Linked DNA regions of Homo sapiens: region 1 is linked to region 2. Evidence: fine-mapped expression QTL. Tissue or cell type: whole blood. Region 2 holds a variant in brackets; the other region holds the start of a gene. All regions are shown on one strand. Distances are between the middles of the regions.

Evidence for each region. PIP is the estimated chance that this variant, and not a neighbour inherited with it, causes the effect.
Region 1: FBLN7 starts here. The variant in region 2 is fine-mapped to the expression of FBLN7 in whole blood (INTERVAL, PIP 0.96).

What each region holds. Positions count from the first base shown.
Region 1 is chr2:112,135,077-112,140,849 of GRCh38, forward strand. It overlaps FBLN7 (fibulin 7), which reads left to right and starts at 3,309. Exons shown (of 8, transcript NM_153214.3): 1 at 3,309-3,654. The coding sequence starts at 3,580. RefSeq lists an enhancer at 5,126-5,773.
Region 2 is chr2:112,515,828-112,521,600 of GRCh38, forward strand. It overlaps TTL (tubulin tyrosine ligase), which reads left to right. Exons shown (of 7, transcript NM_153712.5): 6 at 4,455-4,598. Among named protein-coding and RNA genes, the nearest start is that of POLR1B, 24 kb to the right of the region's middle. The variant A/G (reference allele first, on the strand shown) is at 3,418.

The DNA of each region.
Region 1 (5,773 bases), 380 kb before region 2:
TCATCTTGGCCAGGCTGGTCTCAAACTCCTGACCTCAAGTGATCCGCCTGTTTCAGCTCCCAAAGTGCTGAGATTACAGGCATGAACCACCGCACCTGGCCTCTGTTGGGGTCTTAAAGACAAATTTCTGCAACAAATCTTCCCATTTTGTGTTGCATGCCTATGTTACACAGAGAACCTGAATGTATCAGAGCACTAATCCAAGGAGATGGCAACTGATCTTACCAAAAGATGTTTAAAATACTTTCTGTAGACATGTTGAACCCCACCAAACCAATCCCCCGACACTCAGGAATATTCTCTTGAAAACTAAATAGAGGGGAAATAGAGGAATAAACTAGCTGATAAGGGCCAGGCATGGTGGCTCATGGCTGTAATCCCAGCACTTTGGGAGGCTGAGACGGGTGGATCACGAGGTCAGGAGTTCAAGACCAGCCTGGCCAAGATGGTGAAACCCCGTCTCTACTAAAAATACAAAAATCAGCTGGGCATGGTGGCAGGTGCCTGTAATCCCAGCTACTTGAGAGGCTGAGGCAGGAGAATAGATTGCCTCTGTGAGGCAGCAGAGGTTACAGTGAGCTGAGATCATGCCACTGCACTCCAGCCTGGGCAATAGAGTGAGACTGTCTCAAAAAAAAAAAAAAAAAAGGCTGATAGGCCCATTGTATTCAGTTAAAGGTGAGGGTTGGGGGCTTAAAGGTAGAGCACCCAGCTGATTTTCATGGGCTGTCTGCTTGTAGACAGCCTTGGTAGGTTCTGGACTTGATAGGCTCTGCCTTGATTACTGCAGATCCAGGGCAGCTGAGGACAAAGACAGAGAAAGGACAGTGCTGCTGGGGCAGTCAGATCTTAGAAGGTTCATTCAGACCAGATGCCAGAACACTTAGAGGGAAGGCAGCCATAGGGAAAGGGTTACAAATATAAATAATTACATAGGAAAAAAAATCCTGTTGAAACTTAGAAATATTTGAAAAGTAAAAACAAAAGCAAAAACCCAAGAAAACAAAAAACAACAACAACAAAAAAACAGAAAACCCCCCATTACTGTAAATAAAATTCCTGAAATGCTATGATCATGTATTTAATATAAGCAACATAGTAGCCCTAAAATGAGAGGTGGGATAAAGTCAAAGGTAGTCTGTCCTAGAAACAGCACCGCTCTGGGAGGGGGATCTTGAGACCAGAGTTTGCATTCCTTGGGCAAGTCAGTCAACCATGCCCCGATTCAGCTTCTTCATCTGTGAAATCAAGAATCTCTTCCAGCTTTATGACTCCACAGAAAGGGCAGGAGAAGAGAAAAGAAGGCTTGCTTACATCTGCCCGATGTCTGGTTACCAGCGCATAGCCAGAACAAGGCTGAGAGCCAGAACAGCTGGCCTTCCAGAGAAGGTCGCCATGTAAACACAAGGTGGGATAGGACACAAAATATTAATAAATGCAGCCACACTGACCAGGAGGAAGCTTTTCAAGGATAGGGCAGAGGACAGAGAGACAGAGAGGGAGCAGGGCACTGGCTTTTGGTACAGACAGCAAACACATGAGAGATCGAGGCAGAAAACCACCATCTCCACAGGCTGCCCTGGATCGGGCCATGCTGTCCCGTCCTCTCCACCTGGATAGGGAGAAGCAGGGGTATGACCATGTCTCTCTTCAGGATGTTCAACCAGGAATGCAAAATAAAATTACATGGATCCCTTGCAGGCTGCAGTGGCTCACACCTATAATCCCAGCACTTTGGGAGGCTGAGGCGGGTGGGTCATTTGAGGTCAGGAGTTCAAGACAAGCCTGGCCAACATGGTGAAAACCTGTCTCTACTAAAAATACAAAAATTAGCTAGGCGTGGTGGTGCATGCCTGTAGCCCCAGCTGCTTGGGAGGCTGAGGCAGGAGAATTACTTGAACCAGGGAGGCAAGGCTGCAGTGAGCTGAGATCAGGCCACTGCACTCCAGCCTAGGCAACAGAGCAAGACGCCGTCTCAAAGAAAAAAAAGATTTACATGGGTCCCGTTCCACCTCCTTTGCATGGGAAGGTTGGGGGAGCAGCACTGTAGGATTTCCTGGGCAACCAATGCCCAGGAGGCCAGCCTAAACCATGTCCCCTGCTTTTTGGGGCACTGGCTAGGTTCTGAATGTTGGTGTCTCCCCTAAATTTATATGTTGGAAACCTCATTCCCAAGATGATGGCATTAGGAGGTGGGACCTTTGGGAGGTGACTAGGTCATGAGTGCAGAGCCCTCAAAATTGGGATTAGTGCCCTCAGAAAAGAGGCCCCAGAGAGCTGCCTTTCCCCTGTGAGGACACGGGAACCAGAACTCTGGCCCTCGCCAAACACCTAATCTATTGACACCTTGATCTTGGACCTCCCAGTCTCCAGAACTGTGAGAAACACGTTCTATTGTTTATAAGCCACTCAGTTTATGGTATTTTGCTATAGCAGTTTGAAGGGACTAAGCCAGGACTCCAGCTTTCCTTTCTGGCCTCTGCTGGGAAACAGCTCCTGCTCTGTGGTCACAGTCTTGTGGGCTCCCCGTTCCCTGAGCTCTGAGTGGGCTCAACAAAGTGAAATGTGGAAGAGGAAAAAGAGATCTGGGGCTTGACCAGACTTGTGTGTCCCAGGACATCTGCAGTGACTGCCTTCAGAAAACCTTCCAGGAAGAACGTCAGTCATGCCTTCCGGGAGCTCAGGTCTGAGGCATCTGGTTGTACCACAGCCCTGATGGCAGGGGACTTCAGACTGCTCATGCCGGCCTGGCACTTCCTGATTCGACTTCAGCAAGGCAGGCAATGTTCTAGAACCTGACCTCCGATTTAAACTGAGTTTCTCCTTCCCTTGAGCAAGGAGGACAGTGAATCAGAAGGACGTAGATCCCCTCACTGTATCACTGTGTGTGTATCTACTCACTGTGCGTGCGTGTTCTCACGGCCCCATTGCATTATTTAAAGGGACACTAGTTTATTCGGATGGAGAGCTCAGTCCACCCCACGTCAAGCTTATGAAGCCCATTTCCTGGCCCCCTTCTAGGAATGTCGGGAGGAGGGTGTCGCGTGGGCTTTGAAGTAGGACAGACCTGGGTTTGGGTTTCTGTTCTGCCACTTGTCCTTGGTGACTGAGCCTCAGTCTACTTGGTTGGGAAATAGGACGGTCGGGAGTGAACCCGCCCAGGGTGGGCTTCCAGTCACCCGCACATATGCGGGGCACTGGCCGCCCATCCCTGCCAGGCCCCGAGGATGCCCGCGCTCGTCCTCGGCGTCGCGGGTTGGGCGCGCTCCCGGGCGCATTCCCGGCCGGGCAGCCCCTCCTCCCTCGTCCTTAGCCCAGGGGCCGGCGCCTCCCCGCCTCGCGCGGACTGTCTCGTGCGGGCAGCTGCGGGCGCACCTGGACCCTCGCAAGGCCCGGGCGGCGCCGATCCCCGCGGGACGCGCTGCGCTCGGGGCCTCCCGCCTCCCCCCCTGCCCCAGCCGCCCCCCGGCCGCGCGGCGCCCCGCACCCTGCAGGGACGGCTGCCGCATCGCTGGGACAAACTCGGCAGCGGAGGCAAAGTTATTTCCCCTCCCAGGCAGCGGGATTCCGACTGGCAAGATGGTGCCCAGCTCTCCGCGCGCGCTCTTCCTTCTGCTCCTGATCCTCGCCTGCCCCGAGCCGCGGGCTTCCCAGGTCAGTGTCCCTCCCGCCTCTCTCCAGGCCAGTGTCCCTCCCGCCTCTCTCCAGGCCAGTGTCCCTCCCGCCTCTCTCCAGGCCAGCGTCCCTCCCGCCTCTCTCCCCTGTCCCTCCCGCCTCTCTCCCCTGTCCCTCCCGCCTCTCTCCAGGTCAGTGTCCCTCCCGCCTCTGTCCCCTGTCCCGCGCGCCTCTCTCCACGCCAGTGTCCCTCCCGCCTCTCTCCAGGCCAGCGTCCCTCCCGCCTCTCTCCAGGCCAGCGTCCCTCCCGCCTCTCTCCAGGTCAGCGTCCCTCCCGCCTCTCTCCAGGCCAGCGTCCCTCCCGCCTCTCTCCAGGTCAGCGTCCCTCCCGCCTCTCTCCAGGCCAGTGTCCCTCCCGCCTCTCTCCAGGCCAGCCAGTGTCCCTCCCGCCTCTCTCCACGCCAGTGTCCCTCCCGCCTCTCTCCAGGCCAGTGTCCCTCCCGCCTCTCTCCAGGCCAGTGTCCTTCACGCCTCTCTCCAGGTCAGTGTCCCTCCCGCCTCTCTCCAGGCCAGCGTCCCTCCCGCCTCTCTCCAGGTCAGCGTCCCTCCCGCCTCTCTCCAGGCCAGCGTCCCTCCCGCCTCTCTCCACGCCAGTGTCCCTCCCGCCTCTCTCCAGGTCAGTGTCCCTCCCGCCTCTCTCCAGGCCAGTGTCCCTCCCGCCTCTCTCCAGGCCAGTGTCCCTCACGCCTCTCTCCAGGTCAGTGTCCCTCCCGCCTCTCTCCAGGCTAGTGTCCCTCCCGCCTCTCTCCAGGCCAGCGTCCCTCCCGCCTCTCTCCAGGTCAGCGTCCCTCCCGCCTCTCTCCAGGCCAGCGTCCCTCCCGCCTCTCTCCACGCCAGTGTCCCTCCCGCCTCTCTCCAGGCTAGTGTCCCTCCCGCCTCTCTCCAGGCCAGCGTCCCTCCCGCCTCTCTCCAGGTCAGCGTCCCTCCCGCCTCTCTCCAGGCCAGCGTCCCTCCCGCCTCTCTCCACGCCAGTGTCCCTCCCGCCTCTCTCCAGGTCAGTGTCCCTCCCGCCTCTCTCCACGCCAGTGTCCCTCCCGCCTCTCTCCAGGCCAGTGTCCCTCCCGCCTCTCTCCAGGCCAGTGTCCCTCCCGCCTCTCTCCACGCCAGTGTCCCTCCCGCCTCTCTCCAGGCCAGTGTCCCTCCCGCCTCTCTCCCCTGTCCCGCGCGCCTCTCTCCATGCCAGTGTCCCTCCCGCCTCTCTCCACGCCAGTGTCCCTCCCGCCTCTCTCCAGGCCAGCGTCCCTCCCGCCTCTCTCCAGGTCAGCGTCCCTCCCGCCTCTCTCCAGGCCAGCGTCCCTCCCGCCTCTCTCCACGCCAGCGTCCCTCCCGCCTCTCTCCACGCCAGCGTCCCTCCCGCCTCTCTCCACGCCAGTGTCCCTCCCGCCTCTCTCCACGCCAGTGTCCCTCCCGCCTCTCTCCAGGCCAGCGTCCCTCCCGCCTCTCTCCAGGCCAGTGTCCCTCCCGCCTCTCTCCCCTGTCCCGCGCGCCTCTCTCCACGCCAGTGTCCCTCCCGCCTCTCTCCAGGTCAGTGTCCCTCCCGCCTCTCTCCAGGTCAGTGTCCCTCCTGCCTCTCTCCAGGCCAGCATCCCTCCTTCCTCTCTCCCCTGTCCCGCGCGCAGGGGAGGCAGCACCAAGGCTGGGGGACCCGGGCTTGCCACTTTCCACTCGGATGCCTGGGTTGAGAGCTCGGAGCGATGCCTGGGCTGGGGTTCAGTTTTCAGAGAGAGGTGCAGGGTCCCCCACCTGTCACCTCAGATGCATCGCTGGCCGGGCCCCTGGGAGGACCCGGGCTGGGCTGCGAAAGCGTCGGTCCATTGTGGGCGAGGACTCCACGTGAGCACCGCCGGGAGGAAGAAGATTTCTCAGGGAGCTATGAGACATTGGTCTTTCCTGGGTCTCCATGAGAGCTCCAGGTCACCTAATTAGCTTAGAGAACGTCCCCGCCCTCCAAACTCCGACATTTAAATTTCCAACCGAAGTATCAGAACACTCACGGGACTTTCTCAGCAGTTTGTGGCATTTCCCAGGCAGAGGTGGCCCGGGAGGTTTCCGAAGCGGTCCCTTCCCGAGCCGGCGAGGCCCTGGATGTGCGACTACA
Region 2 (5,773 bases):
TCCCAGTTACTCAGGAGGCTGAGGAAGGAGATTCGCTTGAACCCCGGAGGTGGAGCTTGCAGTGACCCAAGATCACACCACTGCACTCCAGCCTGGGCGACACAGCGAGACTCCATCTCAGAATAAATAAATAAATAAATAAATAAATAAATAAATAAATAAATAAATAAATGCCCTGCCAAAGACAGCCACTTTTCTGACTTTTATCACCTTAGATTCATTTTGCTTGTTCTTAAACTTTATGTAAATGGAATTATACCATATTTCCTGTTTTATGTTCAGCTTTTCCCAGTGTTACATCTGTGGCATTCATCCATGTTATTGCACATAACAGTAGTTTATCCTTTTTATTACTGTGTAATATTCCATTGTATAAGTATTTCAGTTTATTCCTTCTGTAGTTGGTAGACATCTGGGTTTTATCTCTTATATTTTAGAACTATAATCTATCTGAAGTTGTTATATATCAAGTTTCATGTCTTTCCACAAGGATATCCCATTGACCCAGGGCCACTTGTCCTTTCCCCGCTGCATTGTGGTGTGTCTTTGTTACAAATCAGGTGGCTGGCTGGGCACAGTGGCTCACACCTGTAATCCTAGCACTTTGGGAGACCAAGGTGGGTGGATCACAAGGTCAGGAGTTCAAGACCAGCCTGGCCAATATGGTGAAACCCTGTCTCTACTAAAAATACAAAAATTAGCCAGGCATGGTGGCATATGCCTGTAATCCCAGCTACTTGGGAGGCTGAGGCAGGAGAATTGCTTGAACCCGGGAGGTGGAGGTTGCAGTGAGCCAAGATCGCATCACTGCACTCCAGCCTGAGCAACAGAGCAAGATTCCATCTCAGAAATCAATCAATCAATCAGGTGGCCATTTATGTGAGCGTCTGTTCTAGGATCTCCATTCTGTCCCATTGTTCTACCATCCACCATGTCAATGCTACCCTGTCACAATGACTGAGACTTTTTCCTTACTGTATTCTCACGTAGAGCCCAGTAGAATAATTACAGGGCTTGGAGTCCCATTTCTTCAGGGAATATAGGTGGTTGGAATTCTGACACCAGATAAATCAAATATGCTGGAAAAAGAATTCCTATTTTAGGCAAAAGCTTTATTGGAAGTTTGCGGCATCCTTTCCGCATTGTTCATTGCTGTTCAGAGTGTTGCTGCTGTGGTGCTATAAATGCTCCCAGCAGCTCTCAGGTTTTCTTTCCTTCCAGCTAGCCTCCCCCTAACTTCCCACTCCAGCCAAAAAAAGATGCACTGTATAAGTCTCTGATGAGGGATAAAAATCCTTTAAAGTGTATTATTAATCTTGAGCTTTCAGCAAAAAAAAAAAAAAAAAAAAAAATTAGTTTTGATTTGCTTCTGATTCTCAGGTTTTTCTTTATGTTGGAATGTAATACTTCTTTCAATTTTATTTTATCTTATTTTTTTGAGACAGAGTCTTGGTCTGTCACCCAGGCTGAAGTGCAGTGGCGCAATCTCATCTCATTTCAACCTCTGCCTCCCGGGTTTGAGCGATTCTCCTGCCTTAGCCTCCCGACTAGCTGGGATTACAGGCATGTGCCACCACTCAGTGCTAATTTTTTGTATGTTTAGTAGAGATGAGGTTTCACCATGTTGGCTAGGCTGGTTTTGAACTCCTGACCTCAAGTGATCTGCCTCCCTCAGCCTCCCAAAGTGCTGGGATTACGGGCATGAGCCACTGTGTCCAGCCCCCATTTTATATTTTAGTATTTTTTTCTCTCTCTCTTTTTTACCATAAGCATCTGTTAAACTTTTAAATCTTCCTTAATTATAATATTTTAAAGAATATTCTAATTAAAACAGGCTAAGTACGGTGGCTCATGCCTCTAATCCCAGCACTTTGGGAGGCTGAGGCAGGCAGATCACTTCAGCCCAGGAGTTCAAGACCAGCCTGGGCAACATGACAAACCTCTGTCTCCAAAAGTTACAAAAAAAATTAGCAGGGTGTGGTGGTGCATGCTTGTAGTCCCAGCTACTTCGGAAGCCTGAATTGGGAGGATCGCTTGAGCTCGGGGAGGTCAAGGCTGACTGCAGTGAGCCATGATTGGGCCCCTGCACTCCAGCCTGGGCGACAGAGTGAGACCCTGTCTCCTGCTTTTTTTTTGGAGATAGGGTCTCGCTCTGTTTCCCAGGCTGGAGTGCAGTGACATGATCTCGGCTCACTGCAGCCTTGGCTCATGCAACCTCTGCCTCCCACGTTCAAGCGATTCTCCTGCCTCAGCCTCCTGAGTTGCTGGGTTGCTGGGATTACAGGCATGCGCCACCACAGCCAACTAATTTTTTTTTTTTTTTTTTTTAAGTAGAGAGCCAGGGTTTCACCATGTTGGTCTGGCTGGTCTCAAACTCCTGACCTCAAGTGATCCATCTGCCTTGGCCTCCCAATATGCTGGGATTACAGGTGTGAGCCACCTCGCCCAGCCAAGAGTATTTTAATTAAAGCAAAAGTTAAGGATATTCTTGTGTAGAACAGGGATTTTTTTTTTTTAATGTGATGTGTGCTTGTCAATTCAGGTTGAATATGAATGGGAGAAGAAATTTTTATTATAATTAGTTTTTAAATGACTCATCTTAAAAGAACCATTTAAGCCAAAATAGTTTTTAAAGGTTTAAATGTATCAATTAAAATATTTTTCTTTTTAGGAAAAAAGAAAAGGAGATTGAAGTTTGTGGAGGGCCGAGGGCGGAGGATTGACCCTGGCTCCAAGTTCACAAAGGCCTCAGTTCTTTATTAAAGTCATGAGTCAAAACCTGCATCTAGAGCTACGTCTTAGAGTTAGTCACATGGACGACAGTTCCCTGTATCTTTTTCTTTTTCTTTTCTTTTTTTTTTTTTTGAGACAGAATTTTGCTCTTTCACCCAGGCTGGAGTGAAGTGGCACAGTCTTAGCTCACTGCAACCTCTGCCCCCTGTGTTCAAGCGATTCTCCTGCCTCAGCGTCTGGAGTAGCTGGGATTATAGGCACCTGCCACTATGCCTGGCTAATTTTTGTAATTTTAGTAGAGATGGGGTTTTGCCATGTTGGTCAGGCTGCTCTCGAACTCCTGACCTGAGGTTACCCACCCGCCTCGGCCTCCCAAAGTGGTAGGATTATAGGCGTGAGCCACCGCGCCCGGCTGGCCCCTGTATCTTTTTCCTTCCAAATACACAGCTGTGTAGAAGGACAGTTATCTCTGGTACACCAGAGTCATTGTAGCACATTTTATTTACTGAGAGAAATATTTTGCCCCAGCATTCAGTTGGGTGAAAAATCAGGGAAGATCTTTATAAAACAGAAATGGCATAGGTTTTCTGGGATAGTTGTAGATAAGAGGTATTTATTCTTCCTAAATAATAGATATATGGTTATCATAAGGAAATATGATGAAAAATTGTTCATAACAGTAAC[A/G]TTTATTAAAATGCTTCCTAGGTGCCAGGAGTTATGACAAGTTCCTTATGTAATTATCTCACTGAACAATCACTTGTTCAAGATTTTGGTCTGACCTGAGACCTCATGTACTTGTTCATTGTATTTCCAAAATACACTTTCAACTTTTTTATTGTGTCACTAAAATCCTGCCATTTTTCCATTCATTGTTGCTAATAATACTTCTACATTTCAACATTTAGTTTCAACATGTATAGCTCTTAAATCTTGTAATTAGCAATAATTTGCCATTGGAACTAGAACTAGCGACATCGTGAGGTCAACATGTTTTTTTTTTTTTTTTTTTTTGCAAATCCTGCCCTTCACCAAAGGGCAGTCCATTCTTTACATGGCAAAAATACATGGAAATGTTTTACGTGTTATAAACAAACATGGCAGCAGCCCAGCTGTTGGAAGAATCTTCATTTACAGAGGCCACAATGACTCGGCACTCTACTGCTTCTTGAGACATGGGAAAGTGGCTTTTGCCTGGAAGAACACGAGTGGTTGCAGTTTTCTAACAAATGCTTGATAAGTAACATTCTCTTGAGTAACCTAATGGTAATAAGTTGAAAAGAGAGAATTAGGCCGGGCACGATGGCTCGCACCTGTAATCCCAGCACTTTGGGAGGCCGAGGTGGGCGGATCACCTGAGGTCGGGAGTTCGAGACCAGCCTGACCAACATGGAGAAACCCTGTTTCTACTGAAAATACAAAATTAGCTGGGTGCGGTGGCGCATGCCTGTAATCCCAGCTGCTCGGGAGGCTGAAGCAGGAGAATCTCTTGAACCCAGGAGGCGGAGGTTGCCATGAGCCAAGATCATGCCATTGCACTCCAGCCTGGGCAACAAGAGCAAAACTCCGTCTCAAAAAAAAAAAAAAAAAAAAGGAAACAGAGAATTAAAGCTGATAAGCTGATATTTGTATTCATCTCATATAAAATCTTTCAAGCACACCTCATGTCTTCCTTCTCCTTTGACCACCCCGTTCTAATGAGCATTTCCCCTCCTGCCTCATAGGAACTGCCTCCTGAGCGTGGAGCCTGCCATTAGCACCAAGCACCTCCCTTACCAGAGCTTCCAGCTCTTCGGCTTTGACTTCATGGTCGATGAGGAGCTGAAGGTGTGGCTCATTGAGGTCAACGGTGCCCCTGCATGTGCTCAGTAAGCCTGCACGTCATTGTGTTTTTACAAGTGGGAAGTTGGTTCTGCAGTTGGGATAGTCTGTGGGTACAAGTGTAGTCACTTTGACTGCTGTGAGGGAGGATGCCACAGTGATAGGAGACCCTTGGGAGGACTCTATCTGGCAGGGGGCTTTGCTGAGTCACTTCCTTTCCTATTTCCCCGTGTATAGGCCAGATAGGCCCAGTGTGGTAGCTCATGCTTGTAATCCCAGCACTTTGGGAGGCCAAGACAGGTAGACTGTCAGGTAGACTGTCTGAGCCCAGGAGTTCAAGACCAGCCTGGGCAGCCTGGCAAAACCCCATCTCTACAAAAAATACAGAAATTAGTCAGGCATGGTGCTGTGTGCCTATAGTCCCAGCTGCTCGGGAGGCTGAGGTGGGAGGATCACTTGAGCCTGGGAGGTTGAGGCTGCAGTGAGCCATGACTGCACCACTGCATTGCAGCCTGGGCGACAGAGAGACCCTGTCTCAAAAGTAAAAAATGTAAGCAGCTAGCCTGTGCTCAGGTGGGTGGGAGATGCCATGAGAGTGTTAAAGTTCATTACTGCCAGAGAGACCCGTATGACAAGCTGAGTAAGCAGGATCCTATGATGTGGCGACCCAGAAGTTCAGAGCCTCCTGAGGCAGGAAGGAGTCAGAGAAGGCATCTTAGACATGGGGGGTCTGGAGCTGGGGTGCAAGAAAAGAGGGTTCCGCTGCACCAAAGGTTGGTGGGGAGAGTCTTCCAAAAGAGGTGCAGCGTCCTGTGGGCTCTCACCCTGTCCCGGGCTCTGCAGGTCTGGGAGATGCCCAGAGGAACAGAAGCTCCTGAGAACCTGCTCTCCGGAACTTCTGCTTCTCTCGGGAGAAGGCTGGTTGTAGCATGAGCGTCATGGAGTCATTAAGGAGGAAGGAAGGTAAGAGAGGACCTTCTGTGGAAGGCCTTACGTGTCAGGGAAAGTCACTCGGACTCAATTCTCTTGTGCTGAGGGTTCTTCTGAAGATCCTCTTTCATGATGTCAAGACCCTTTCGTGGTTCCCATCTACATCTTGAAGAAATTGAGTGATTTTTCAAAATGTTTAAGAGAAAGTCCCGTACCTGCAAGGGACGATGTCAACACACCAAAGTTGTTCTTTACTTAGAAGCTAGGCCTTTGCCATTGCCTGATGGTTACG